Regions from separate parts of the Homo sapiens genome. Here region 1 is linked to region 2. The links come from fine-mapping of genetic effects on gene expression. A gene starts in region 2. The other region holds a variant in brackets. All regions are shown on one strand. Distances are from middle to middle.

Evidence for each region.
Region 1: its variant is fine-mapped to the expression of DRD2 in prefrontal cortex (ROSMAP, PIP 0.95).

Annotation. Positions count from the first base shown.
Region 1 is chr11:113,693,898-113,696,753 of GRCh38, reverse strand. TMPRSS5 (transmembrane serine protease 5) reads left to right here. Exons shown (of 13, transcript NM_030770.4): 7 at 1,311-1,354; 8 at 2,114-2,276. Among named protein-coding and RNA genes, the nearest start is that of TMPRSS5, 11 kb to the left of the region's middle. The variant G/T (reference allele first, on the strand shown) is at 1,269.
Region 2 is chr11:113,473,656-113,476,555 of GRCh38, reverse strand. It overlaps DRD2 (dopamine receptor D2), which reads left to right and starts at 1,158. Exons shown (of 8, transcript NM_000795.4): 1 at 1,158-1,480. LOC105369501 (a long non-coding RNA gene) reads left to right here. Exons shown (of 6, transcript XR_948024.2): 6 at 703-1,027.

The DNA of each region.
Region 1 (2,856 bases), 220 kb before region 2:
CCTATGATAGGAGGACAAAGAGGAACATTTCCTAGTTAGAAATTACAAACTCAGTTCACATGAGCCCTGTCTGTCACCACTTCACATCTGCTATTTGCCCTTCACAAGAAATGTAGGGTTGGTTATTATTGTCACAAGATTTGACATGGTACTCATCACCATTTTACAGGTTAGGAAACTGAGGCTTAATAAGGTTAAAGAGTCTTGTCCAAGGTCACATAAGTAATAAGCAGCTAAGTCAAGCCTTGAAACCAGGCTCCTGTCTCCAAGCTAAGTGCTCTCTGAATCCTGCCACACATTATTTGGATAATTCGGATATTTCAGGAAAGAGATGGTTGAGTTGCTCTGGCTAAGAGTTGCTTGTAGTCTGGAGAGTCTCCTAGAGAAGAGGGCTGTGGAATGGAGCAGCCCCTTCCCCAGATCCTGGGGATGGTTTGGTATGACTGGGGCACAAGCGGAGAGGGTCTTTGTGCCTTCCTAGGCTTCCTCAATCTGCCTATCAGCCTCCTGGGATAGAAAGGTGGGCACCCCCATTACCACATTTCCAATTTGAACTGTTCCTTCAGGCCCCTCCTGTCCAGCTCCTGTGCTCAGGAATGTGGCTGGAGTTGGGAAGGTTCTGACAGGGTTCTTGTCTTGGATACCTGAATGGGAAAATGGAAGTAGGGGTGGGGCTGACTCCTCCAGGAGAGCCGGGAGGGCTATGGATTTGGGAAACTAGGAGAAACTAAGAGGGTCTAGACATTGGACTGCTAGGGGCAAGAGGTGAGTAAAGAAAGAGAAGAGAGTTTTGGTCAAAAAAGGAACTAAGAGCTAAGAGAGAAGAGGGGAAAGAGGAGAGCAAGAATATGAATATGCAAAGCCCAGGCAGAGGGACCAGGGTGGAGAATACAGCAAACCTAGGAAGGAGCATGGGGTGAAGAACCCTAGTCACCCACACACTCACCTATCCGTTCATTCATTCATTGAGTGTGTATTCATTCAGGACACTTAGTGGGAACAGTGTGGCTTTCTCATCTGTAAACACACTATGTCCCAGTTGATCTGCAAGGACCATGAAGTCCTTCTGTTGCCCTCTGGGAGACTAGGCAGGAGGTGTGCTCCTGTCCTGGGGACCACTGATGAGGAGGGGTCTGAGTGTTTGGGTGGGGGCAGGAAGGAAATGGTGGTATTCTTCAGGCTGTGGCTACATGACAGCCTTAAGAACTGTCCACCACCCCCACCAGCCTCCCCCATTCTTCACGTCCTTGGATGTGTGTGGCTGCAGG[G/T]CGGCCCCTGCCCAGCTTCTTGTTGGTACCTCTGTTTTGCAGGAACAACTGCACTTCTGGTCAAGTTGTTTCCCTCAGATGCTCTGGTGAGTCATATCTTGGTCTAGGGGAGGTGGCGGTGAGAGGAAGGGGTGTTCCCCCTGCCTCAAGTGTGGAAGAGCCCTATGGTGAGACTCTGCTGGGCCTGGGGTAGGGGTCTTGCCCACCTGCCCATCTGCCTGCCAGGCCCCTTCTTGCAGTTGCTGTTCTGCCCCAGCCGAACCCTTTCTAAGCCTCCATCATGTCCCTCACCAGCCACAGATCTGGGCTGATGATCTCCTTCCTTCACTACCTGCCACTCTCTTCCTTGGCCTCTGACACCAACTCCATCTTTCTTCTGGAAAGCCCCAGAGGTGAAATTATTATTGGCTATTGAGTGACCTGTTAGCAGCTTCAGGAAACTAAGGGCAGGTGGTGAATCAGGTACCAAACGGGAAGCAATCTGTGGAGTTCCTTTCATTGGTCTTCCCGTTCATCTACCCGTCTCTTCATCTGTCCATTCACACATCCTTCCACACACCAACACTTCGACCTTTACTACAGGACAGGCATTCTGTTAGGTACTAGGGCTCCATTAGTGCAGATACAGTTTCTGCTTTCAGTGGGCCCACAGCTGGATGGGGCAGGCAGGGGTGAAATCAACACTTCTACCTTCCCATCCCCCATACTTAGGACCAGGAATAAGAAAGGAGAGCTGTCCACACTGGCTCTCTGGGGCTTAGCACTGGGCCACGCTTCCTGAGAGTTAGGACCATGCTGACACTCACCTCTCTCTCTCTTTCTATCTCACCCATCTCTGTTGGCAGAGTGTGGAGCGAGGCCCCTGGCTTCCCGGATAGTTGGTGGGCAGTCTGTGGCTCCTGGGCGCTGGCCGTGGCAGGCCAGCGTGGCCCTGGGCTTCCGGCACACGTGTGGGGGCTCTGTGCTAGCGCCACGCTGGGTGGTGACTGCTGCACATTGTATGCACAGGCAAGTCTCTGTGGCTGCTGAGGACAGAGAGCCTCAGTTGCCCTTTCTGTTCGGCTGTTGGTATGTCCTGTATCAAATGTTCGTGTCCAACTGTCTCCAGCTTTTTGCTCCAAAAGGGTAAGACTGGTGTTTGTGAAGTTCTCTCATTCAGTATCAAGAACAGATCTGCACAAATAACAGTAATAATATGAAGATTTGTTCTTTATATTCATCAGTTTTTTTTTTTTTTTTTTGAGACAGAGTCTCACTTTGTTGCCCAGGCTGGAGTGCAGTGGCGCAATCTTGGCTCACTGCAACCTTCACCTCCTGGGTTCAAGCGATTCTTGTGCCTCAGCTGGGCACCACTATGTTCAGCTAATTTTTTGTATTTTTAGTAGAGATGGGGTTTCGCCATGTTGGCCTGGCTGGTCTCGAACTCCTGACCTCAGGTGATCTGCCTGCCTCAGCCTCCCAAAGTGCTGGGATAACAGGCGTGAGCCACCGTGCCTGGCCTCATTAGCTTTTAAGTGTTAAAAATACTTTCACATTCACAGTATCCTGTGTTTCTTCAGGCTTATCTTTGGTTCAATCATTTTCCATG
Region 2 (2,900 bases):
TTGGAGGAAATGCTGAGATGAAGTTAATCCTTGTGGCCCAGAGAGGCTGGATTCCAGCCATGCAGGGCCGACTCCCTGCTCTGCAGAGTCAGTCCTCTGCCCCTGCTCTTCCCTCTCCCTGGAGTGTTGTGCCACCTTCTCCCCTTGGGAACTGGTGTTGCTCCTTCAATGCCCGGTTCCTGTAAAGTCTCGCTTTTTTGTGCTTCACAGCACCTGTTTAAGCCTCAGTTATTTCCCTGGGGGTCCCCTCTCTGGATTGCCAGGGTGCGGGATCAGGGGCCTGGTTTTCTTTCTGTGTGTGACTTCTGAATCTGACACAGAATCTGGCAAACTGAGGACAGTTGGTAACTAATTGCTGCAGAAGAAAGAAAAGAAAGAGAAAGAAAGAAAAAGAAAGGAAGGAAGAAAGAAAGAAAGAAAGGAAAGAAAGAAAGAGAAAGAAAGAAAGAAAGAAAGAAAGAAAGAAAGAAAGAAAGAAAGAAAGAAAGAAAAGAAAAGAAAAGAAAGAAAAGGAGAGAGGAAGAAAAGGGGAGAAGAACGAGGTTCCTCTGCAGCCCAAATGACAGTGGGCAGGGTAGCAGCGGAACACCCTTCACCACTCTATCTCTTTCTCCCTCTCCCCACTCCCTGCCTCACACACCTCAGTTTGGAGTCAAGGGTGAGCTGGAACCCCTGAGGCCTCCTTTTGCATTTCCATGTCAGGTCAACTCCAAACAGGCTTTTTCCTTTGGATGAGTCCAGCAATAGAACTGACTACATAGATTCCAAGACCTGAAGTCAGAAAACGGATGCGGACCTCTTCCAACACCTCCTCTCCTTGCCTGACTTGCTGGATGGGTGGTGCCTCCCGCAACCCTTGGCTTCTGAGTCCTCAAAGGAGAAGACTGGCGAGCAGACGGTGAGGACCCAGCCTGCAATCACAGCTTATTACTCTGGGTGTGGGTGGGAGCGCAGTGGGCGGTCGAGGGTTGCGTTCCCGCCTCAAAACAAGGGATGGCGGAATCCCCCAACCCCTCCTACCCGTTCAGGCCGGGGATCGCCGAGGAGGTACAGCTCCTTTGGTGGGGGGCGGGGGCGGGGCCTGTCTCAGGGGCGGGGACCGGGGCACCTCCCTCCCGCGCTCCCCGCGCTCGGGCGCCGCAGAGCTGTCCAGCTTCAGTGCCGAACCGGCAGCCTCACGCGCGCACCGCGCCGCCTCCGCCCCGTCCCCGCGCTCCCTCCTGCCCGCCCGCCCCGCGCCCGGCCCCGCCCCGCCCCGCCCCGCCGCGGCCCGTCCACTGCTCCCCGCGGGCCAGAGCCGGCCGAGCTGCTGCCCGCCGGGGCTCTGAACGGCGCGGCGGGGCCGGGAGCCAGGGACCGGCCGAGGAGAGTGGCGGCCCCGGACGGCTGCCGGAGGGGCGGCCGCGCGTGGATGCGGCGGGAGCTGGAAGCCTCAAGCAGCCGGCGCCGTCTCTGCCCCCGGGCGCCCTATGGCTTGAAGGTAAGCACCGGCCGGATGGAGCGGCGGGCGACTCAGTGTCACGGGGAGAGGAGGAGGGACCTCCAAGGGGAGCGAGGCCAGGACCAGAAGTTTGTGCGGCCACTCCTGGCCGCCTGCTCGGGAGCGCCCGCCTGGGATCCGGCTCTGCATGGGCTCCCCGTCGGGCGGGGGCAGAGGGCGTCTGGAGCCCGCGGCTGCTATCCCCTCTCCCTCCTTCTCAGTAGCCTCCTCGCCACTTAGAAGGGAATCCTCTCCCCGAGCACGAGCGGGCGCAGCTGGGGCAGCCTCCCCGCGGGGCGCCCAGGGCAGCACGGCGGAGCCGCGGCATCGGAGGGCGGGAGGGAGGCCGCTCCCCACAATCTCGGGAGGGCACTTCCCCCAGCACCCAAGCGCGAGACCCGGGGCTCGCGGCCAGAGTTTCCGACTTCTTCCGGAGGAAGAAGGGCTGTTTTTGGCAACTCTGTGTTGGTGCGACCTGACCCTTTTCAGTTTCTAAGGCAGAAGCTAAGGATGGGGGAGAGGCAGATTCTGGCTGGATTCTCCCGCTCCCACGGTTGCCGCTGTCCTTGGTCCTGAACTTTCGTTCTCCTTCGCCTTCTCTTGGGTTGACACCTAGTCGGGGAGGGAGGCTTGGGTGCCAGACCCGTTTCTACCCGGCAGTGCAGGCGACGGTGGCGGCAGTAGCGGAGGGTGACCGCCCGGCTCTCGGCCCGGCTCTATGATGGACCGAGAGCCCCTCTAGGGTGGTATGCGGAGACAAGAGACACCTCTAAGCACCAGACAGAGCGCTTCCCTATCCCTGTCTGAGGCGGGCAGCCCTTGAGTGCTTCCTCTTGAAGAGCAGAGGTAAGAGGGTGCGTGTGCGTCTACATAACAGGCTTCACCATGGACACAAGTCACAGCAGTGCAGCTCCGTGGGGACAGGCGCTTGCTCTCAGCCACAAGGAAGCTGTCTGAGCAAGTCACTGTTGCCCCACCTGACACCCCACTACTTTTTTTTCGGTGGCTCTTGAGGTTGGGTGAGGGGGTGAGGGAGTGAGGTGCAAGGCACTTTGTGGATCCCACTCCAGATCCTTCTGCAGATCCAAGCCTTTCTGTATTTTGACCAGGCTACAAACCTTTTAGGCCAATCCTTGCTCCTCCTTAGGGAGCTAGATGTTCAACGATTCTCCCCACTCCCACCCTGCTTCAAATGCAAATATGCATGCTTATCTCTGATTCATCCTGCAGCATTAGGACCACTTGAAAAAGAAATCATGCTTATCGTCTTTCCCTCATGCAGCTGTTTGATGAGGGTGGCCAGATAGAGAGACTGTGGTCAGCATGACCAGTTTCAAGAAAATCAGCAAGCTGCTTTCCTGGGTTTCAGTCCCTGCCTTGGACTTCCCTCCTTAGTGTTCAAAATTCCTGGATTATTTGT